4 linked regions of the Homo sapiens genome follow. The protein of the gene in region 2 purifies or fractionates together with the protein of the main gene of each other region. This does not show direct contact. Each region holds a gene or a part of one and is shown on either strand. Other genes may lie near its edges.

Evidence for each region.
Region 1: the proteins of CRYGD (region 2) and PPP1R9A purify together in Homo sapiens (affinity purification with mass spectrometry; one large-scale study listed by BioGRID and IntAct). This does not show direct contact.
Region 3: the proteins of CRYGD (region 2) and NEXN purify together in Homo sapiens (affinity purification with mass spectrometry; one large-scale study listed by BioGRID and IntAct). This does not show direct contact.
Region 4: the proteins of CRYGD (region 2) and LRRFIP2 purify together in Homo sapiens (affinity purification with mass spectrometry; one large-scale study listed by BioGRID and IntAct). This does not show direct contact.

What each region holds. Positions count from the first base shown.
Region 1 is NC_000007.14:95,266,401-95,272,811, forward strand, and holds part of PPP1R9A (neurabin-1), read left to right. Parts: intron 1-2,149; coding exon 2,150-2,307; intron 2,308-2,806; coding exon 2,807-3,107; intron 3,108-6,411. UniProt on the Homo sapiens protein: Binds to actin filaments (F-actin) and shows cross-linking activity. Binds along the sides of the F-actin. May be involved in neurite formation. Inhibits protein phosphatase 1-alpha activity.
Region 2 is NC_000002.12:208,121,725-208,127,672, forward strand, and holds the start of CRYGD (gamma-crystallin D), read right to left. Parts: upstream 2,801-5,948; 5' UTR 2,750-2,800; coding exon 2,741-2,749; intron 2,631-2,740; coding exon 2,388-2,630; intron 222-2,387; coding exon 1-221. UniProt on the Homo sapiens protein: Crystallins are the dominant structural components of the vertebrate eye lens.
Region 3 is NC_000001.11:77,926,624-77,932,323, reverse strand, and holds part of NEXN (nexilin), read right to left. Parts: intron 5,609-5,700; coding exon 5,432-5,608; intron 3,009-5,431; coding exon 2,820-3,008; intron 1-2,819. UniProt on the Homo sapiens protein: Involved in regulating cell migration through association with the actin cytoskeleton. Has an essential role in the maintenance of Z line and sarcomere integrity.
Region 4 is NC_000003.12:37,163,207-37,169,617, reverse strand, and holds part of LRRFIP2 (leucine-rich repeat flightless-interacting protein 2), read left to right. Parts: intron 1-6,411. UniProt on the Homo sapiens protein: May function as activator of the canonical Wnt signaling pathway, in association with DVL3, upstream of CTNNB1/beta-catenin.

The sequences.
Region 1 (6,411 bases), on a different chromosome or scaffold from region 2:
AATGAGTTTCCTAGACTAGTCACGTCATATATGATTTTATAACCCAAAACACCAAACTCTAATGGCATTAAAATCTTGCAATGGGAGGTTTATCAACACTAGCTAAATCATAGTGGATAGCCTAGTAGCCTGGAAATCAAGACACTAGAGTAATCATGGTAGCGCATTAATTAGTTATGTAAATGAGGGCATGCTACTCAAGTTCTCTGAGCTTCAGGAGAGAAAAAAAATACTTGATTGGTACCTCATGGGGCTGTTGTAAGGAACAAATGAGATAGAGTATGTGGCATGATTTGTATTATAGAGCATACAATCCAAATATGAGCTAGATAAGGCATAAAACGTGCAAGTACTACATACAGTGTTTCTAATTATATTACAGCTTTCATCTACGTGGTGTTCCACATTTTATATTTAAGCAAGAGCTTATAAGATTGACTCTCTCCCAGTTATCACAACTAATGAACTCTTAATGGGCAGCTACAAATATAGATTTTATCGGAAGGAGGAAATTAAAGTGATCAAGGAATTATTTTTTCTCCCCTGACATGTAAAAAGTAAAGAGACTGCTAATTAGAAAATATTTAGCTGTTCTTTATAAGTACCTGAATGGTCTGAATTTTCTGAGTATTCATTCTTCATTCAGATATAGGAAATGAAAAGTCAAAACCTTCTCTAAATATTGTCATTCAATGGATGTATCTCCTGGGCAAAAATGTAGTTAATTTTGTTTGTTAGAGCCATATACTAAGTGCTAGGTTTCATAGACAAGAGGCACAAACTGAGGTGCTTCCTTGCTTTGGTTTTGTAGTATAGCATATTTAGAGCACATCTAGAATAATGCTGTAAAAAGGAATTGCCTGAGCTAATAATATTATAAGAAATTGTTTATTCTGTTAATACAAGTACATAATTTTCTGCAACTCAGTTATTTGCACTCAATTATTAACTCCTTGAACATGACTTCAGCTAATGACTGCCACTCTGAAGAGATAAAATAGGATTAATGATCAAACTCCTTTATTTCTAAGGAGTGATTACATATGCAAATGAAAGGAGTAGTAGCATTTCAAATAAGTTCCACCAGAGAGTACTTTTCCTTAACCAATATCCAGGTATGTTAATGGGTACCTTTCCTTTAGAATGTTAACTTCGGGGTCCTAACTTAAAATCTAGGTAGCAAAATTAAAGGTGGTAAGAGCCAGGCTAAAGAGGACTAATTGAATTCTCTCTGTGGCCTTTGCTGTTAATAGTTCATTTTCTTTGTGTCCCACTTTACTCTCTTTTTCTTTTAGCCTTTTTATTTAAAGACTTAAGTATTTACCCTTCGAAAATCAGTGTCGTTTCTGGTGGGGAGAGAAGGTATTCACAGAGATGAGTCAGAGGCACATACAAATAACTTGTAATACAAAGTTAGATGTTAATGAAAGAAAAGGAAATGTTTATCCTACCTCATCCACAATACTAGTAAACTAAGTACTTACGATTTTTTAACTGTTTGTTTCTTCATTTGTGTAGCCAGACCTTGTTTCTTTTCCCCAGCTATCGTCAATTTGCTGATTAGGTAAATTCCTCACTGGTCTTTCTACAGGTTTCAAAAAGGAACAAGGTAGATTTTCAGAAACTGTTTTGGGTTGAAAATTATATATTAAAATGAAAATGATATAGTACCTGAAGACTGCTAGTAAATTTTGCTACAGTAAATTTATGATAGTTACCTTCTGTTGCCTGTAGTTGAACTGGAAACCTGACTTTGTAGGTTTTTTGTCCTTGGTTTCTAAGATCTGTCAACTTTTGATATACCCTCCTCTATATCTTTGGTCATCTAACTTCCCAACATGCATACACATAAATAGTAAATACAAATTAGTGATTTTTATAATTATATTGCAGGAAGGTTGTATGCTTTTCGGATGTTGGATTTTTATAGCGCCTTCATCATCTTTAGTGTTGGTTTCTTCCTTTGACTTTGTATATTTCTCCTAAGCCCCACTGATTTCTTGGTTATTTCTTGGTTACAGGCTGTCATGGTGGTCACCTGATCCTTACCTGATGTTACTGGTTACCTTGAGATTTTATCAGTGTCTGTGGTCTCTTCATCAGTTCTCTCCAAAGGTTTCTCTCACTGATTATCTTTCAATATTCTTAGACTTGAATGAAGCAGTCCCAGAGACAGAGCGCCTGGATTCAAAAGCACTGAAAACTCGAGCCCAGCTCTCTGTGAAGAACAGACGCCAGAGACCCTCTAGGACAAGACTGTATGATAGTGTTAGTTCCACAGATGGGGAGGACAGTCTAGAGAGAAAGGTGAGCACCCTTGACCGTTTCCTGATTTGTACTGTTGGAGTATATCATTGTTCCTACAGCTTATTGAAGATTATGATTTTTCTGCAAACAGAGTCTATGTCCTAGTTGGTAAGCAGCTAGAATAGTTCACGTCTTTGTCTCCTGAATTCTTTATATTGTTGTAATTCAAAATATTTTGTCTATTCATTCAGTGAACTAACCAAGAGCATTATCTGTATTGTCATATTTCATGATGGTGCTTTTGATATTCAGCTATTGGTTTTACTTAGTGGGAAATAATGAACGTACAAGTAATTGTTTCTGTAGGTCTTAGGTATATGTATTAGTGACGATGTTAATATGGTGAATTGGTATGAACCATGCATTCTCATCTGTAAATCAACAAAAACTGGTTTTCATGGGGATTCACTAATAAAAGGTTGGTCTTATTTCAAAGTAAGTATTGCATAGAACTGATACTCAGTGGCATAACCTTCCTTATAATCTCTTATACCAACAGCCATCAAACAGTTTCTATAACCACATGCATATTACCAAATTACTTCCACCTAAGGGTTTGAGAACGTCTTCTCCAGAATCAGATTCTGGTGTTCCACCCCTCACCCCGGTGGATAGCAATGTGCCCTTCTCGTCTGACCACATAGCTGAATTTCAAGAAGAACCACTGGACCCAGAAATGGGGCCTCTCTCCTCTATGTGGGGAGACACTTCACTGTTTTCTACTTCAAAGTCTGATCATGATGTGGAAGAATCTCCTTGCCATCACCAAACCACCAACAAGAAAATATTACGAGAAAAAGGTATTGTTAATTTCTTTTTCTGACTTCATAACACCTCAGCTTGTACAGTATAAAAATGACTTTTTCTCATAATCATAAGTCATTTGTTTTCTCATAGCTAATAATTAATATTAATTTCTTTTTATATTATAGAATAAGAGAAACAACCCCTCCATGTATTTTACTTTAATTTAGTTTTATCTTTTCCTATCTGGTTCAGTATTTTTATCTCTTCAGCTCTCTATAAGTTTACTACTCAAGGGAGTTCTTCAGGGGAGTGGGGCAGCCCAGAGTTTCAACAAACACTAACACAGTCATAAAGAAAAAAACACTACATAGTCATATAGAAAAATATAGAGCGATTTTGTAGAATAGCAGCCCAGAGTTTCAGTAAACACTAACGTAGTCATATAGGAAAAAAAGACGAAGATCAAAGTAACACAGGCATATAATTGATACTTAATAATGTTCTTGGATGAATTGCTAATATACCTCTCCACGTAACCAGTGCAGATCTTCTAGAAGAGGGATAATCAACCGAATGTAGTCTCCACCTGCTTTTGTAAATGAAGTCTTATGGGAGTACAGTCACACTTTTTTACTTACATACTATCTATTTTCATGCTACAGTAGCAGTGTTGAGTCGTTGTGACAGAGACTGTGTATCTCACAAACCTAAAATATTTTACTCTGTGGCCCCTGAAAGGTAAAGAAAGCTTCCTGATGCCTGGTCTAGAAGTATATTTTCTTATACTCAAAATTGCTGGATAAACTCTGAAAATGGCTTCATCATTGGTTGCCATTTATCTAGAATTTTTAAAAAGTGTTATACCTTTACTTTTGGTCTATCAAGTTACCACAAAGATGATTAATTACAGCCATGTTTGATTGCAGGCTTGAGGATAAGGCTCTGGTTACCCTAACAGGAGTTGGCGATTTTCTGAATTGTGTCAATACCACATTTACAAATCATTTTTTTTCATATCTGAGGGACATCAGTGGAAATTAGGATGGAGAAGTCCCATTATAACTGGCTAAATGATAAGCATCTAACGGAATATCAAATTAGAGGAAGTAAAAGATTTTTTTCTAGAGATTTGTAAAACAGGTTATATGCCAGTAGAAGGCATGAAAATATTTTCCTCGTTCCTGTTATATAAACAACCTAATACTAAAGTTTTGGTCCCGAGGCTTACATAGCACTGGGCCTTTGTTCAGTCAAGATTAAATAAAGTAAATTGAACACTATCAATTTTCTACTCACAATTACTAGAGATTATTATTCTAATTTTTTGTGTGGTTAATAACACATTATTTGACCCAGAAGATGTGTTCAAAAATATTCATTGAATTAATGTCTAGTAAATAGAAACTGGCTTTTTTAAAGCTTTACAGGATTTATTGCTTATTAAAAGCATTGGGCCTCTGCAAGTATAGATAGAGTACAATTATATCAACGCTCAGAAGAGAGAGAGATTGCGTCCAGCTGAGGTTGGTAAACAAAACCTATCCAAGGAAGTACAATTAGAATAGCCATCAAAGCACTTAAGGGAAAAAAAGGGTAGGTAAGGAGGGAATAGCGGGTAAAGTGATGTCATTAACAGAGACAGGCACATATCATATGATTTAAAGGTACAAGGCTATCCCAGCCTGGCTGTAGCAGTTTGCTTATGCAGGGTGGAGTAGTTACACACAAAAGTGAGCCAGTAGGTTAAGTATATAGCTTTAGAAGTTAAACATCTTAGATAACTTGCCATATTACTAGGAAACCACAAGAAGTTTGACCAGAGGAATAAAAAGGAAAAGACACCACCAGGTATGGAGAAGCTGAGTTAGGAGACCCTATGAGGTGGTGCCCTCTAAAGAGGAGCAGTAGACAGTGACAGGAAAGAATGATTCAAGGACCCTTGAGACATACCTTGACTAGGTAACAGGTAAGAAAGTGAGGCAAAACTATCATGGGCTTCACGCCTCAGAACATATGGTCTTGTCATTAACAGAAAATAGGAAATCAGCAACATGATGGGGGAAATAGGATTAACTCATTTTTTTAACAGAGGAGGTCATGAGCGCAAGAGAGAGGTCAGGACTGCCAGGTAGATTTGGGAGTCCCCATTATAAAGGAAGAGATAGTCAAGTATCTTATTACAGTGAGATTAAGGAGATGCAGTCCAGTACAAGACCTTAGGATTTGGCCATCAGGAGATCATTTATTATTTGAAAATGAAAACCAGGTTGCCACAGCTTAAAGTTGAGGCACCCAATCTGGGGGCTCAGATGTATAATTGGTCACAAAGGTAGTATTGGAGAGATTTTAAAAAGCCTAACAGAAGTCTTACGTAGAGCTAAATAAACAAAATGTATGTTTCTTTTTTCCTGAAATCATACCAATCTAATGTTGGATTTTATGCAGACTAGAAGTTCTAGTGTGCATTAAAGATGGATTTAATCGATTTTAAATGGGAAAGTACATTATTCCTTATTCTTAACATCTTCAGCCCTATGGAAGCATTCATTTCAGTGTTCCTGGGAACGCACTTTGGCAAATGTGTGAGATAAAGATGTAAGGTTGCCTAGCACCAAGCTCTGTGATAGGCAGAATCAGGCTTTTAGTCGCATGATGTCCAAATAACTGCAACACTCATGGGTTACAGAGTGTTTTCGTGTACATTGCCTCAGCTGGTCTTCTCAGCGCTCATTGTAACATCTCCCAGCTACCTCTCATTCAGGAAATAATTAGGCAGTCTCCTTTTAACTTTGCATAGTCCTAGCCATTAAGAGTTGCTTTAGGATTGATCTGGAAGAATTTGGCACTTTCTTTTCTTCAGCTTCTATTAAGAAAATTTAAATCTTGCTTTTAAAAATAAAATCCATTAGTAAAATCACCTTAGAAGGTGTTTGTGCCATGTCTATGTCTATGGATTTTTTTATATGATTGTGTCACATCTGTGACAATTCAGTTACCCAAAGAGTAATGATGCAAATATGCATAATAAATATTTGAGGCTTGAAGTGGATTTTTGACACAGACATATTTCTGACTCTTGTGTTTCATTATGTACATTTCAGTGAGTTGCTTATTGTAATCTAAGTATCATTAACTAAAAATATGAAAAGCTCATTGCTAAAAACATTTGGAGTATTTGTCAGTGTCCTGTGCTGCTTGAGAGCTTTGAACCTAGACTGCTATCCATGAACTGTGTGTGTACTTCATGTTTTTTAAAGGTGTATGTCGATGTGTGTTGAGAAATTTCTCTTGAAGTAAACAAAAATCATGAGCAACATTAACCTGCAAAGTTAATTGAACACTTTTTTAAGAGGGCCA
Region 2 (5,948 bases):
CCCCAGTCCTGGTAGCGCCTATAGTCCCCTGGCATCAGCAGGTACTGCCGTCCTCGGTAGTTGGACAGCTCGTAGAGGACCCAGGAGCCCTCCAGCACGTTGAGGGAGTGGATTTCATTGAAGCGGAAGCGGTCCTGAAGACAGGAGCAGTCCTCAGTGAACTCTATCATCTGGCCTCTGTAGTCCTCTCTCTCATAGAGTCTGATCCTGTGAGAGCCAGACTGGCGGACCCAGAAATAAAAAGAGAAGAAAAGCAAGTGTGAAATGATTCCAATGCATTGTTAGGCAGTCCAGCTTGGTGAGGACCCGCTCAAGCCATTTTGAAATACATGGTAAAATTTAATTAATTCTGAATATTTATAAACTCCTCATTACCGAGCACAGAGATTCAGTACCTTTTCAAGATTATGAAGTGTGGTGAAGAAATTGAGAAGGAAATCTCACTCTTTAATATATTCAGCTATTTCTTAGGATGAGCTGCCTCCTAGGCTCAGTATCCTGTACCACATGCAAATCCAAACCTGTAACAGCTTATTACTATTTTATACCATTTTGAAGAAATGTTTTAATATTAAAATAAACATTAAATTATAAAGAAATATATTTAAATAATGTATAATTTTAATATACATATGATATCTAATACATATTTAATTATATACTATATTTAAAATATATTATAAAATGTATAAAATTATATTTTATTTAAAGTTAATCATATTTTATTTTAATAATTATATTCAAATTATATTTTATAAGTATAAATTAAAATTATATTTATTTTACAAATTATATTTTATTTTAAAATAACTTTACTAAAATATAAATAAAATATATTTAAAATACAGAAATATAAGGGGTGGGGCAGTGGCTCATGCCTGTAGTCCCAGCACCCTGGGAAGCCGAGGCAGGTGGATCACTTGAGGTCAGGAGTTCAAGACCAGCCTGACGAATATGGCGAAACCTTGTCTATACTAAAAATACAAAAATTAGCCAGGTGTGGTGGCGGGTGCCTGTAATCCCAGCTACTTGGGAAGAAAATTGCTAGGGCCCAGGAAGCAGAGGTTGCAGTGTGCCGAGATCATGCCACTGCACTCCAGCGTGGGGAACAGAGCAAGACTTCGTCAAAAAAAATAATAATAATAAATAATAAAATAAAATAAAATAAAAATAAAAATACAAAAATTAGCTGGGTGTGGTGGCGTGCTCCTGTAACTCCAGCTACTCAGGAGACTGAGAGACGAGAATCATTTGAATCCAGGAGGCGGAGGTTGCAGTGAGCCGAGATTGCACCACTGCACTCCAGCCTGGGCGTCAGAGTGAGACTCTGTTTCAAAAAACAAAAACAAAACAACAACAACAAAAATATATATATACACACATATAATGTAAATGAAATATATTAAAAATATATTAAAATATATTTAAAATATGTTAAATATATTTAAAATATAATATAATTTATGTAGTTATATAAATATATTAAATACATATTTATTAAATAAATATATTATTAAATACATTATATTCATTAAATATATTTAATGTAAATATATTTAAAATATAAAAATATGTATTTTAAATATAAGTATTTAAAATATATTAAATATATCATTTAATATATTGAATTAAATGATAATGCATCATTTAAATCAATGACATAAATAAAATATGTTAAATATATAAGCCTTCTATTCAAAATATAAGTGTTTTAAATATATTAAAATATAAATATTTAAAATATATTAAAATATAAAATGTTAAATATCTTCATATATTAAAGAACAATTAATTCTAAGTCAATAACTTGTGAATGCAATGAAGAAAAATGGAGGAAGAAACATCAGTAAGTCCAAGGACGAATTTTGCATAAACTTTAGTGTTCTAACACACATATGGGATAAAAGGGACACATGTGTAAAATATGTGTGTTGCTCTCCTTTGAAGGAAAGTCTTACTTATATAGGTTGGGAAAACCCAAAATATGCAAGAGAGGAGCAAAAACGGGAAAAAGTCTCAAAAGAAATTACCCTGTTTGCTCAGTAACTGCTGTACGCTCTAGCATTTATTCTTCTATTGGGTATTAGTGGTTTTTCTACAACTCCATTCTAAATGATTCCAGAATAGGACTTAAGTCTTATACAACCCCTAGGGCAGGAGACACATTCCTACTCAATACATATTTGTGGATTAATTGTGATTAACTGGTGTCTGGGTAATACTTTGCTTATGTGGGGAGCAAACTCTATTGACTTAATCCACTATAGTTCATCTTTTGTCCACTCTCAGTTATTGTGACTGATCACTACTTCTAATGTTTAACTTTTGCTTGAAACCATCCAGTGAGTGTCCTGAGGGCCTGGGTCCTGACTTGAGGATGTACTCACGTGGGGGATGAGGCGGCAGGAGCGGACCGAGTCGCTGAGGCCCATCCACTGCTGGTGGTCGGCATAGTCGCCGCGGCGCAGGAAGTACTGGAGGCCCGAGTAGTTGGGCTGCTCATAGAGCATCCAGCAGCCGCTGTCCACGCGCGCCGAGTTGCAGCGGCTCAAGTAGGGCTGCAGGTTGGGGTGGTCGCTGCTGCATTCATAGTGGCGGCCCTGGAAGCCCCGGTCCTCGTAGAGGGTGATCTGCAAGGCAAGGCGGGACAAGGCGAGGTCTCACAGGCCTGCTCCTGCCCCAGTCTCTGGCCCCCGCGATGGAGGAAGCTCCGGGGTCCCGGGGCGCAGGCTGGGCTCACCTTCCCCATGGCTGGCTGGGCGCACGGCGGTGCTGAGCTGGTGGGGCGGCGGCGCTGAGCGGGTGGGGCTGCGGCGCGGCGGGCTATATAGCAGGAGGGCTGCTGCGTTGGCAAGAACCGCACAAAAGGGGCCCCCGGAGGGGAGCAAGGGCATTTTCGTGTTCTCTTTTTTTCTCTTTGCTGTGCTAGACCACGGGGCTTGTTGTGGGTTTTGGTCGCATTCTCTCTGGAGTATTCGGATTGCTATCACTGGCTGATGCTATTGAGAATGTTTGTAAAACGGCAATTTGGGACATTGTCTATTTATAATGGAAGTGGAGCTTCAGCTATTTCACATATAGTTCACGCTTTTATTCGTATAGATTGGGGAAAAACAAAAAAAATTTAAGTCGGGGAGCAAAAAAAGCAACGACTCTTAATAAGGCAAATATAAATTAATCTGTCAGAACTACAGTATTACTTACGTGCCACAATATTGAATACTGATTGTTAATAGGAAGGAAATGGGCTTAACTGAATGTTGAAAATTTCAAGTTAGTCCTTTAAGAGAACGTCATCATGAAAGGGTGTAAGAAATTGGAACATTTTATTAAGAGAGTTCACAGAATTTCGAACTTTTATTATGGTAAAACACACAGCAAACGTGAATCTTCAATATTGGGTCTGATTTTGTTGCAATTATGCCTGGAAGTAGCTGAGAATTAGATGTTTTTCTCTTAGCTAAAGGTGGTGCCGTGATTCAAAAGAGAGAATAGTTCTAAGATGCTTAATCTCAGAAAGAACTAAAAAGGGAAATATCTAAGTTTGAGGAAATTAGAAAAAGTAATATGTTTGAAACACAAAAACATGATCTCTTAGCTTGTTATAAAATAAAACCAAATTCCTAAGAAACTTATTTCTGGTAGGATCTAGAATACACCTTTGCCCTCTGAACGAGCGAGAGTACACAAGGCCTTTGACTCAGACGAAATTAATTGCATGAACACAAAGGGGAGCTATGGCTGGAATGATGCAGGGAGAGGAAGGAATAAAAATCTAGAAGTTGGACTCGAGGAAGACTTCAGAAAGTACTTATTGGCCTGGAAGAGAGCAGTTTGATGGACTGGGAAGAGTACTGGAGTGGAATATGACCTATGTGTCCAGCTTCTTTCATGTTCAAAGAATTGCTTACAGCCCTGTGTCAACCCATGGAAGTACTTTGTCTTGTCTTTGAGTCATAAATCTTTGTAAGTGGTATTTATGAATTAAACACCAACTATGTGCAATACAAATTATTTTAATTCTTATTTTCTGGCTGCTTTTTTTTTTTTGTATTCTTTCTATATAGAGCTCTACGGTGGTAGGGAAATACCTTTTTCTTTTGTTTTGTTTTGATTGTTTTCTTCATCCCCATTGCTACATATAGCAGGCGTATGGTAGGTGCTCAAAAATTGGTAAGGATCCTAACTCAAGGAAGTTAAGAGTCTCTAGTGGCTAATAATTGGAGGCTATTGAAATGGAAAATAAACTTGTGGCTGGGTGTGGTGGCTCACACCTGTAATCCCAGCACTTTCGGAGGCCAAGGTGGGAGGGTCACTTGAGCCCAGGAGTTCGAGACCAGCCCTGGCAACATAGTGAGACCCCTTCTCTACAAAAAAGTGAAAAAATTAGTCAGGCATGGTGGTGCGCGCCTGTAGCCCCAGCTACTTAGGAGGCTGAGATGGGAGGATCGCTTGAGCCTGTGAGGTCGAGGCTGCAGTGAGCTGGGTTTGTGCCACTGCACTCCATCCTGGACAACAGAGTGTGACCATGTCTCAAAAAATAAATAAATAAAATAAAATAAACTTGCACTATGAGCCGGTAGTCTCACTTCTAGGTCGCTATCTTTTTAAAATTATGGCATGTCAGGATTAGCGTATATGTACAATGTTATTCTTTGCAGCATTGTTGGTAAAAGCAACATTGGAAAAGCCCAGTCACTTAAGTGGACAAATGGTGAAATGGTCTAAGGGACCTCCAAACAATGGGATGCAATTCAACCATCAAACAGAATAAGATACTGACCTAGATATATGTCCATATTATAATACATTTTAAAAGCAAGTTGCAGACTAATATGTATAGCATGATTCCATTTTTGTAAAGAAAAGAAGCATGTGTTTTATAAGAGAGCTATATAAACAAGGAGAAAATCCCAGAAGGGTGCCCACCAACTATAAACAAGAGTTAGCAATGAGGGGCGTCAGAAGGACTCCCCTCAACTTCTTTATAGAATTTGTACAGTAGTAAGATTATGGGAGGCCTTTTACTTTGAAGGGAAATTTTTAAGTTAAAATAAATAAATTCTCTGCTGATGAAAAGACTCGTAATTGCTTTCTTTTTTTTTTTTTATTTTTACTTTTTAGGGCTTTGCTTATGAGCAAGCAGATTTTAGTTTAATAAAAGGCTCCAGAAATTATGGCTTCTTTAAAGCACCTTTAAATTTGAGCCCATTTTGTAATTACAGGACTTACGTATTTGTTTATTTAAACTTTTATTTTAGATTTAGGGGCACGTATCCAGGTTTGTAATACAGGTAAATTGCATGTTGTGAAGGTTTGGTGTACAGATTATTTTATCACCCAGGTGATAAGTATAGTACCTGACAGGTAGTTTTTTGATCCTCTCCAACCGCCCACCCTGCAACCTCAAGCAGGCCCCAGTGTCTCTTGTTTTCTTCTTGTCCACATGTACTCAAAGTTTAGCTCCCACTTAGAAGCGAGAACATGAGGTATTTTGTTTTCTGTTCCTGTGTTAGTTTGCTTAGGATAATGGCCTCCAGCTCCATCTATGTTGCTGCAAAGGACAGGGTCTCATTCTTTTTTATGGCTGCATAGTATTCCATTGTATATATGTACCACTTTGTAAAATCCAGCCTACCATTGATGGGCATTTAGGTTGATTCCATGTCTTTGCTGTCATGAATAGTGCTGTGATAAACATATGCATACATGCGTCCTTATGCCAGAACGATGTTTTTTGTAGTTATTTTTTATGTTTGGGGTACACTATACCATGAAAATCTATTTAAAAGATTGATGTGTATCTCTTAATATTAATTTATTTGCAATAGCTGGTCACCATGAAACTGATGTGCAGTTTCTATAATTGACACAGCATTTGGGCCAGGGGTAGTACCGACCAAGAGCTACACTTCTGGACAGGAGTCATTTTCAAAAGAAGATGAATA
Region 3 (5,700 bases), on a different chromosome or scaffold from region 2:
AGAAACTGAGGCACTGAAAAGTAATTGTCTAAAGTCAACACAAATACTATGTGGCAAAGCTGGGATTCAAACTTCAAAATATTTCTAATAAGATTATAGGCCGGGCACAGTGGCTCATGCCTGTAATCCCAGCACTTTGGGAGGCCAAGGCAGGTGGATCATGAGGTCAGGAGTTCGAGACCAGCCTGACTAACATGGTGAAACCCCGTCTCTACTAAAAATACAAAAATTAGCCAGGTGTGGTGGTGGGCGCCTGTAATCCCAGCTACTGGGGAGGCTGAGGCAGGAGAATCACGTGAACCCAGGAGGTGGAAGTTGCAGTGAGCCGAGATTGCACCATTGTACTCCAGCCTGGGTGACAGCGAGACTCCATCTCAAAAAAAACAAAAGATTATAGGCCGGGCGCGGTATAACATAACCCTCTGGCCTGAACTGTGACTCTGTGGTTGAAATACACACAGGGGAATGAGAGAGGCAAGGGGTATTATTCATTTGCTCCAAGTTTTATCAAGGTAATCCAGGCTTTACCACAGAACTATTTCAACTCAGAAACAATGTTTAAGTGGTTTACAATTCAAAGATTGCCTGAAATTTTTAAATTTTACATATGCATGAACTAAGCTATGGTATGAAATTACAATACTTATTCCTGGATAAATTACAATACTTATTTGTGGATAAGAAAACAATATAAATGTAAGAGGAAGGTTTTCTCTCTTCTCTTTAGAAATGTCTTTAGGAAACTTGGTTTTGTTTTAATGCAGTTTTCTCGCCTGCATTTTTTCCGCTAGTGAATCATGGTAAAAAGGCAGTATTGGCCTACAAATCTGCCCCAAGGACTAGGTCTAGTAATCTTCACAGTTACTTCTCTTCTACCGCTTCTTTTTTTTTTTTTTTTTTTTTTTTTTTTTGAGACGGAGTCTCACTCTGTCCCCCAGGCTGGAGTGCAGTGGCGAGATCTTGGCTCACTGCAAGCTCCGCCTCCCAGGTTCATGCGATTCTCCTGCCTCAGCCTCTGAGTAGCTGGGACTACAGGTGCCCGCCAACACGCCCGGCTAATTTTTTTTTTTTTTTTTTTTTTTTTTTTTTTTTGTATTTTTAGTAGAGACGGGGTTTCAACATGTTAGCCAGGATGGTCTCGATCTCCTGACCTCGTGATCCGCCCGCCTCGGCCTCCCAAAGTGCTGGGATTACAGGCGTGAGCCACCGCGCCCGGCTTCTTCTACCGCTTCTAAACCTGCTTATTCTCCAAAAATTAAGTGCATTCACAACGTCTGTAGGACTTCTATGTAGAAACCATTTATGAATCAGGGATTACCTACTGCACGTAAGATTTCAATATCACTTGTTCCATCAACATTTATTGGAGGTCTGCTACGCTAAGCATTGTGCCACATGTTTGATGAACAGTCTTGGCCTCATGGAGTGGAAAAGACAGCCATAAGTGGTAACAATACAGGATTAGCGCTATGATAGAAGAGTACTAAATGCTGTAAGAATTCATGGAAGGTGTTTATTATCAGGAAAGGCTTTCCAGAGGAAATGGAAAGTTATGAATTGGAGTTAGCAGAGCATAGGGAAAGGAGTGAGGGACATCTTTCAGACAGTGTGAAGGCTGAGTCTCACTTTGAAGAAATACAAACAAATTCAGCATATTTGGAACAAAGAGCAGATTCAGGAAGAATCAAGAAATGAAACGAGAGCAATATACAAGAGCAAGACTATAAAGAAATTTGTTTTAGAAGTTTTTGGATTTTTGCTTAAGAAAAGTGGGGAAATATTAAGCAAAACAGTAACAAAACACAATCAAAATTTCTTTCTTTTTAAAGATCACTCCTGGCCTTACAGGAAAGAATAGGTTACAGGTAAGAAAGCAAGTTAATGAGGAGTTGGCCCCAGGCAAGTTGTAACAGTAACTTGGATTATAGTAGTGGCGGTGAAAATGGGGGGAAAACTGACAGATTTCATAGTGATTTAGGAGGTAGAATAAACGAGACTTAGTGACTGGTTGGACATCAGGCATGAATAAGAAGATGGAAGTGTTTCAGGCTTCCACGTTTCTGATTTGAGTATCTGTGTGGGCAATAAAGCCAAATAAACACTTGGACATATGTGTGTGATGCTCACCCATACAGAGGAAGAAAACCAGGTTACGATATCACCAAAGCTAATTACAGTGTTTCAAGAAGGAGATGCAGTGCTCTAGTCTCAAATTGCTTCAAAATTGTTTGTCAGATAACTGTACATTGTACAAACATAAAACTGGTATAGGAAGTACAGTCATAACCTTGTGACAGTTAAGTTAGGTATCAATTTCCAGGAGTGATGAGTGAGCATTTTGAAGAGAGAAATAATTCTGATTAAATGACTCAGGTCATTTAATATATAGTAGGTGGGATGAAAACTGAAAGAAGGAAAGGAAGGAAATAAAGGAATGAAGGAGGGAGAAAGGGAGTATGGGAAGGAGGTGGCGAAAGAATGGAGAGGAAGAAAGAAAAGTTGAGGGAGGAAACTCCCTACTTCTTCTTCTTCCTTGGATACTTAGTTCTGGAAAACATGCCTTCCCAGAGAAGGGAGATAATATTCCATCCTTTGTGCCAAGCATGGCAATTTAAAGCAGAATCTTCTGAACACTAAATTGAAGCAAATACCTTCAACCAACTGGTGTTATTCCATGGGAGACTTTAAAACATATTTGCCATTTCTACTCTTGGCACAGTTTCCAGAAATAATAGGGTATTCTCTAAAGTCTAATGATTCTATTAACATATTCTCAAAGGTGAATTCTAATAGCATTCTCCAGTTAGCTTCTGTCTTACCATATTTCTCCTTGCTTCAGCAAACGCCTTCTTTTCTTCCTCTATTCTCCTTCTGGCTTCTTCTTCTGCTTTCCTTTTTTCATCTTCTCTTCTTTGCCTTTCCATTTCTTCAAAACTGAGTTTGAGTTTACCAGGGCGGTACCCTTTAAAAATTTTTGCTGTGTCTTGGTTTTCCTCATCTTCATTTACCTAACCAAATAAACAATTCATTACTAAGAATTGAGGTTCATCAGAAAAAGGAATGAATTATTAATCAAAAGGCACAGAATTAGCCACTATCACACAGGAGTTTCAATGCCCTTAATATACTTGACCTAAATCCCCTTCCTTTTTAATGTCTTCTATGATAAAATATTCAAATTTGGAGAAATTCCATATAAAGATGTACTCAGGTTAAATAAAACTTCTCAAATAAGCCAAATTTCTATAGATAAAATTGAATATTAAAACATTTTTAGCCAGGTGTTGTGGCGGCTCACGCCTGTAATTCCAGAACTTTAGGAGGCAGGAGGATCACTTGAACCCAGGAGTTCAAGACCAGCCTGGGCAACATAGCAAGACTTCGTCTCTACTAAAAACCAAAAAACACATTATAGCCAGTGTGGTGGTGTGTGCCTGTAGTCCCAGCTACTCGAGAAGCTGAGGTGGGAGGATCCCTTGAGCCCAGTAGGTTGAGGCTGCAGTGAGGGGTTACTGTTGAGTATTAACTTTCCCAGAACAAATATAAAATGCGTATGTGTGTACTATAATTGGGGTTCAAGTATATCTACACAGAATCTCTTTGGTAGTAAAATAATGTTCTCATTTTGTAATTTTTGTATTTTTTTTTTTACTGTGAACTATGGTACCTTATACTAATCAGATAAAAGATTATTATCTAGAACTATTTTATGTAAAATTCCAGCTTTATGATTTTATCATTAAAGGTTTATTATTAAATTTACTATAATATCAATTGAAATGTATTATTTATTTAACAATACTATTTCTTTATTAAGTTGACCACCAGAAATATCTAAAATGTGCAGATATTATGCAGCTATACCCGAGTAATAACATTTTCAAATAAATGTCTAGAAAATTAAATTTTTATATATATAATTCTTAGAACATCATTCAAGAAAGCTGATCAAGAAAGTTCTGTAACTTTAAAATTACAAATATTCCATTTTTAGATCCTTTTTTTTTTTTTTTGAGACAGGGTCTCACTCTGTCACCCAGGCTGGAGTCCAGTGGCTCATTCATAGTTCGCCGTAGCCTTGATTTCCCGGGCTCAAGCAATCCTCTCGCCTCAGCACCCGGGGAGCTTGGACTACAGGTCTGTGCCACCACACCTGGCTAATTTTTGTATTTGTTTTTGTAGAGACATGGTTTCCACATGTTGCTCAGGCTGGTCTCAAACTCCTGGGCTCAAGGGATCTGCCTGCCTCAGCCTTCCAAAGTGCTGAGATTACAGGCATGGCCACCATGCCTGGCGCATTTTTAAATCTTAAAACGAGGTTTGGAATCAGTGTTTTCTTATTTCAGTTTTACTTTCTGTTGATAAATCTATTAATACCATAGTAATAATTAACATTTTCAAAGAACTTAGTATATGTAACAAACACCATTTTAAGTGCTTCCTAGATATTAACTTGTTTAACCATTTAAGAAATAGGCATTGAAAAAAAATCCAAGTCATTGTGGAAGTTAAAAAAAAAAAGAAGTAGGCGCTTTCATTTTTACCATTTTAAAAATGAAGAAACTAAGAGAGATTTAATTAATTAACACAGCGAGAGATTAAAACAGTTGTCCATGGTTACACAGTTAGTAAATGGCTGATATCTGAATCTAGACAATCTGGCCCCACAATCCATGCTCTTAACCACACTACACACACACACACACACACACACACACACAGACACACACACACAGAGGCATGCACACAAATATGCACACACATACACTTAATAGGACAAACTGCATATTCCACCGTAAACTGTTATTTTGATATGTTCAAACAGTTGAAAAACTGGACTGCTGAGGACAAGTTTACACTTATAATCAGTCCCGCACCCATGTCATTAAGTACTTTGCAGATTGAACTAACAGATGAAGGAAACCAGGTTCATTGAGTAATTATTTTGCATATTTATACATTAATAACAATGTATAAAAATAAAAATTTAAAGCATATTGGGTAAAATGCCCCAGAGTGAAAACTGGAAAACAGTATGGATTTTTTTTTTTGAGACAGTCTCATTCTGTTACCCAGGCTGGAGTGCAATGGCGTGATCTCAGCTCACTGCAACCTCCATCGCCTAAGTTCAAGTGATTCTCGTGCCTTAGCCTCCCAAGCAGCTGGGATTACAGGGATTTCACAGTGTTGGCCAGGCTGGTTTCAAACTCCTGACCTCAGGTGATCTACCCACCTTGGCCTCCCAAAGTGCTGGGATTACAGCATGAGCCACCGTGCCTAGCCTAGATGTATTTTATATATGAAATATGAATACAATTAGAAAATCAGCCCTTCTATATGTAAAATCTCTTTGAATTTGTAGTAGTAAACCTTATCTTAAGTCGGCTAACTTCATTAATATTAATTGTAAGGTTTAAATATGTAGATTTACCATTTGCCGCCTTGCTTCTTCAAAAGCACGCTTCTCTTCTTCTAAACGTTTTCTTGCTTCCTCTTCAGCTTGCTTCTTTCGGTTTTCTTGTCTTTGTCGCTCCAGTTCTTCAAAAGTTAGTTTCAATTTTCCGGGAGAAAGTGATTCTTTTTTTGCTTCACTTTCTATTTCATCATCCTAAGAAAACGTTATGAAAACCCACCTTTTAGTCATAAAGGAAAATGCTGCTAACTTAAACTGCCTTGATTTGTTTCTTAGAAAACAAACAA
Region 4 (6,411 bases), on a different chromosome or scaffold from region 2:
TGTTTTGTAAGTTAGAGTATACCGTACTGTATGCAGAGGATTAGGATGTTAAAATATTTATTTCCCTGTTAAATGGCTTAAATCATGAACAAACTGAATATATAGCATTGCTTTTTTTAAAAAGTGAGTATCCCAGTTAAGTGACCTAAGGATTATAGGACTAAATGTAGAAAAAAATTCAGCTTTAGATTAGATGTTTTTTCCCTTGTCACAGATAATGCTGTATCTAGGTGAACAGTCAAGGAAATGAGAGGGCATTGTTCTTGTCTTGCCAGATTCATCCTTTGCAATCAAATAAAGTTTGTTTTGTTTTTAAAATTGTGGTACAATATAGATAACATAAAATTTACTCTGTTGACCTTTTTTAAAAATATTTTTATTATGGTAAAATACAGTCATTTGTTGCTTAATGACAGGAATATGTTCTGGGAAATGCATCATTAGGTAATTTTGTCAAGCAAACATCATAGAGTATACTTACACTAACCTGGACAGTATAGCCTACTACACACCTAGACTATATGGTATAGTCTGTGGTTCCTGGGCCATAAACTTGTGCAGCATGTCACTGTACTGAATACTATAACTGTAGACAATTATAACACAGTGGTAAATTTTCGTGTATCTAAACATAGAAAAGATACAGTTAAAATATGATATAAAAGATTAGAAAATAGGCCAGGCATGGTGGTGTGCACCTGTAATTCCAGGTACTCAGGCTGAGGTAGGAGGATCACTTGAGATCAGGAGTTCTAGGCTGTAGTGTGCTATGAGCACATCTATGAATAGGCACTGCGTTCCAGCCTGGGCAACATAGTGAGGCCCCATCTCTTAAAAGGGCACACGTGTATAGGACAGCTCCATTATAATCTTATGGGACCACTGTAATATGTGTAATCCATTGTTGACTGGAACATCCTTATGCAGCACATGACTGTGTACATAACTTAAAATTTATCATTTAAACCATTTTTAAGTGTACAATTCGGTGGTATAAAGTACATTTACATTATTGTGTAACTATCACCTCTATCCATCTCCCTAACTTTTTCATCATCCTAAACAAGCTCTGCCCATTAAACAATATCACCTCATGCCCATAGCCCTTGGTAACCATTGTTCTACTTTTTGACTCTATGAATTTGTGTACTCCAGGTACCTCGTATAAATGGAATTATGTAATATTTGTCTTTGTGTCTGGCTCATTTCTCTTAGCATGATGTCTTCAAGATTCATCCATGTCATAGCATGTATCAGAATTTCATTTGTTTTAAGGCTGAAAAATATTCCTTCGTATGTTTATACCATATTGTTTAATCATCTTTTGATAGATGGGTTGTTTCCATCTTTCTGCTTTTGGGAATAGTGCCACCATGAATATGAGTATGCAAATGTCTGTTTGAGTGCCACATTCAATTCTTTTGTGTATGTACCCAGAAGTGGAATTGCTAGTAATTTGATAATTACCAAATTTCATTTGGTAATTCTATGCTTAATATTTTGAGAAACCACCATACTATTTTCCACAGTGGCTATACCATTTTACATTACCACCAGCAATGCACAAGGGTTCCAGTTTCTCCACATCCTTGCCAACATTTACTATTTTCTGTTTTCTTATTGATTGATTTTTATTTATGTTGAGCCAGGGTCTCACTCTGTCACCAAGACTGGAATGCAATGGCCCGACCACAGCTCACTGTAGCCTTGACCTCCCGGGCTTAAGTGTTCCTTCCCACCTCAGTCTCTCGAGTAGCTGGGAGTACAGGTGTGCACTGCCATGCCTGGCTAATTTTTGTATATTTTGTAGAGATGAGGTCTCTCCATTAGCCCAGGAGGGTCTCAAACTCCTGAGCTCCGCCAGCCTTGGCCTCCCAAAGTGCTGGGATTACAGGTGTGAGCCATTGTTCCTGGTCCCGTTTTCTTTTTTTTTTCTTTTTTCTTTCTTTCTTTTTTTTTTTTTTGAGACAGAGTGTTGCTCTGTTGCCTAGGCTAGAGTGCAGTGGCGCGATCTCGGCTCACTGCAACCTCTCCCTCCTGGGTTTAAGCGATTCTCCTGCCTTAGCCTCCCAAGTAGCTGGGACTATGGGCACCCGCCACCACGCCCGGCTAATTTTCGTATTTTCAGTAGAGACGGGGTTTCGCCCTATTGGCCAGGCTGGTCTCGAACTCCTGACTTTGTGATCTGCCCGCCTCGGCCTCCCAAAGTGCTGGGATTACAGGCGTGAGCCACTGCACCCGGCCTGCTTGTGCCTGGCCCTGTTTTCTAACACAAAAAAATCGATTATTTTTAAAATAAAATCTCTAATAGGGTGGTATTTCACTGTGGTTTTGATTTGTATTTCCCTGGTGATGGGTGACATTGTGCATCTTTTCTTTTTCTCTTCTTTTCTTTCTTTCTTTCTTTTTTTTTTTTTTTTGGAGACAAGATTTTGCTTTGGCACCCAGGCTGGAGTGTAGTGTCACAATCATGCCTCACTGCAGCCTCGACCTCCTGGGCTAAAATGATCCTCCCACCTCAGCCTCTCCAGTAGCTGGGACCACAGGCATGTACCACCATGTTCAGCTGATTTTCTTTTCTCCTTCTGTTTCTTTTTTTTTTGAGACAGAGTTTCGCCCTTGTTGCCCAGGCTGGAGTGCAATGGCGCTATCTCTGCTCACTGCAACCTCTGCCTCCCAGGTTGAAGCGATTCTGCCTCAGCCTCCCAAGTAGCTGGGATTACAGGCATGCGCCACCATGTCCAGCTAATTTTGTATTTACAGTAGAGATGGGGTTTCTCCATGTTGACCAGGCTGGTCTCGAACTCCCAACCTCAGGTGATCCGCCCACCTCAGCCTCCCAAAGTGCTGGGATTACAGGCATGAGCCACTGTGCCTTGCCTCTTTTTTTTTATATTTTGTAGAGACATGTTGCCCAGGCTGGTCTCCAACTCTGGGTTCAAGCAACGTCCAGGCTGGTCTCCAACTCCTGGGCTCGAGCAATACTCCTGCCTCAGCCTCCCAAAGTGCTGGGATTACGTATGTTGAGCCATCATGCCCGGCTGAGCATCTTTTCATGTGACCATTTTTGTATCTTCTTTGAAGAAATGTCTACTTATGTCTTTTATCTTTTTAATTGGGTTTTTGTTGTTGCTTAGTTGTAGGAGTTCTTTATATCAATCCTTTATCAGCTATGTGATTTGCAAATTTTTTTTTATTCCGTGGTTTGCCTTTTTACTTTTTGATAGTGTGCTTTGATGTACACAGTTTTGTTTTTATTTTATTTTATTTTATTTTATGTTATGTTATTTTAAGATGGAGTCTTGCTCTGCCCAGGCTGGAGTGCAGTGGCCCAATCTCGGCTCACTGCAACCTCCGCCTCCTGGGTTCAAGCTATTCTCCTGCCTCAGTCTCCTGAATAGCTGGGATTACAGGCATGCGCCACCATGCCTGGCTAATTTTTGTATTTTTAGTAGAGACGGGTTTTCACCATGTTGGCCAGGCTGGCCTTGAACTCCTGACCTCGTGATCTGCCTGCCTTCCAAAGTGCTGGGATTCCAGATGTGAGCCACCGCGCCCTGCCCAGAGTTTTTAATTTTGATGAAATCCAACTTACCTTTTCTTTTGTTGCTTCTGCTTTTGGTATTATGTCCAAGAAATCATTGCCAAATTCAATATCATGAAGTTTTTCCCATATATTTTCTCCTACGAGTTTTATGGTTTTAGCTCATTTGTTTAGGTCTTTGATCCATTTTGAGTTTTTTCTTCTTTCTTTCTTTCTCTTTCTTTCTTTCTTTCTTTCTTTCTTTCTTTCTTTCTTTCTTTCTTTCTTTCTTTCTTTCTCTTTCTTTCTCTTTTCTTTTCTTTTCTTTTCTTTTTTTTGTGACAGAGTTTCTCTCTTGTTGCCCGGGCTAGAGTGCAATGGTGTAATCTCGGGCTCACTGCAACCTCCACCACCTCCTGGGTTCGAGCAATTCTCTGGCCTCAGCCTCCCGAGTAGATGGGATTACAGGCACCTGCCACCACGCCCAGCTAATTTTTGTATTTTTAGTAGAGACAGGGTTTCACTGGTCAGGCTGGTCTTGAACTCTTGACCTCAGGTGATCCGCCTGCCTTGGCCTCCCAAAGTGCTGGGATTATAGGCGTTAGCCACCATGCCTGACCCCTGAGTTAACTTTTCTATATGGTATAAGGCAGTGGTCCCCAACCTTTTTGGCACCAGGATTCAGTTTTGTGGAAAGCAATTTTTCCATGGACGGGGGTGGGGTGGGTGGGGGGGTTGGTTTCGGGATGAAACCATTTCATCTCAGATGATCATCAGGCATTAGATTCTCATAAGGAACGCACAACCTAGATCCCTCACATGCACAGTTCATTTTTTTTTGTTTTTTTGTTTTTTTTTTTGAGACAGAGTCTCGCTCTGTCACCCAGGCTGGAGTGCAGTGGTGCAGTCTCGGCTCACTGGAAGCTCCGCCTCCCAGGTTCACGCCATTCTCCTGCCTCAGCCTCCCAAGTAGCTGGAACTATAGGCGCTCACCACCACGCCTGGCTAATTTTTTGTATTTTTAGTAGAGATGGGGTTTCACCATGTTAGCCAGGATGGTCTCGATCTCCCGACCTCGTGATCTGCCAGCCTCGGCCTCCCAAAGTGCTGGGATTACAGGCGTCAGCCACCGCACCAGGCTGGAAGACAGTCTTATATAATGTAACATAGTTATGGGAGTAGCATCCTGTATAACCTTTGCCATATTCTGTTGGTTAGAAGTAAGTCACAGGACCCACCTACATTCATGGGGGAAGTAATTACACAAAGGTGTGAACAGTAGGAAGGGCGATTAGGGTGGGGAACCACCTTAGAATTTGTCTACCATAACTGATTACAAAATAGCATGTTTTAGGAACTTTTTTTTTTTTTTTTGAGACGGAGTCTTTTTCTGTCATCCAGGCTGGAGTGCAGTGGCATGATCTTGGCTCACTGCAACCTCTGCCTCCCACATTCAAGCAATTTTCCCGCCTCTGCCTCCCATGTGGCTGAGATTACAGGCGCCTGCCACCATGCATGCCTGGCTAATTTTTGTATTTTTAGTAGAGATGGGTTTCACCATGTTGGTCAGGCTGATCTCGAACTCCTGACCTCAGGTGATCTGCCCACTTCAGCCTTCCAAAGTGCTGGAATTACAGGCATGAGCCGCCATGCCCTGCCATATTAACCAATTTTTGTTTAAAAAATAATGTTATTAAAATAGGAGTATCTTCGGATGGTGGGACTTACTGGTGGTTTTATTGTTATTTTGTATTTCTTCACTATTTCATCCCACTTTCCCTCCCTGCAACATTCCAATTTTGAAATTTTAAATCAATAGTTGGTGTTTTCATTATAATGAAATAAATATTGTTTACTGATCAGCCATGTGGTATATCATACTTGTTTCCTTTCTTGTTTAACTTTGTTTTTTCAGGGAGTTAAAATTTGCCTTTTACATTTACATAATTTTCTGTTTACCTGTTGCTTTCCCCCTAAATGCGCCAACAGATTTTTCAAGAGTCTTCATCTATCTATGTATCTATCCATCCATCCATTCTAGCTTATAACATCAATTTATAAGCTATAAAACGAATTTATTTTGCATAAAATTAGTTGTGAACTATAGAGAAATATAAAACAAAAATACAGTTTTAGGAAGAAGAATACATGAACACCTGTGGTCTCACTACCTAGGTCAAGAAATTACATGTTACATTTATCCTAGAAGTTTCCTCAAGATATCCTTTAATGGCACCCCCTCCCTTCCAGGAAATCACAAGCCTATTTTAACATATTAGTCATTCTCTTGGGACCATTCTCTGCTCAAGCCTGCAATATCCTCCATGTCCATACATGTATTTTTGGCCAAAATTTTTAATTTTGAAAAACCAAAAAGCTCTACTACCTCTCTAAGTCTGTTAGTCAGGATAGGCTGAACTACTTTAATGAATAATTACCAAATCAGTGGTTTTTAACACAAAATTTATTTCTCACTCACATCTTTGCTGTGAGTTGAAAAGCAGTGACAGAGTGGTGGTCTGTTCCACAGAGTCATTGAGGGACTCAGGCTGCTTTCAGCTAGTGATTCTGCCACCCACTGGGGCCTCAGAGACTTTGAATTTCCTGCATCTGGCTGGCAGATGCGAGGACAAAGAGAGGGACTGTGGTAGATTGCATGGAAAGTTTGATGGGCCAGGCCAGGATGTGGTATACATCAGTTTTGTCCGCATTCCACTGGCTAGAACTGAGTCAAATGGCTACACTTAACTGCAAGGAAGGAAAGGGAAAACGCCTTGGTCAACAATGAGCCAATCTCTGCCATGGTATGTATCCCTAAGAAATATATCATTTTGTTTTGGAAAACTGAATAGCAAGCATCAACTGAGGCTGTGAAAGGAAAGGTACAT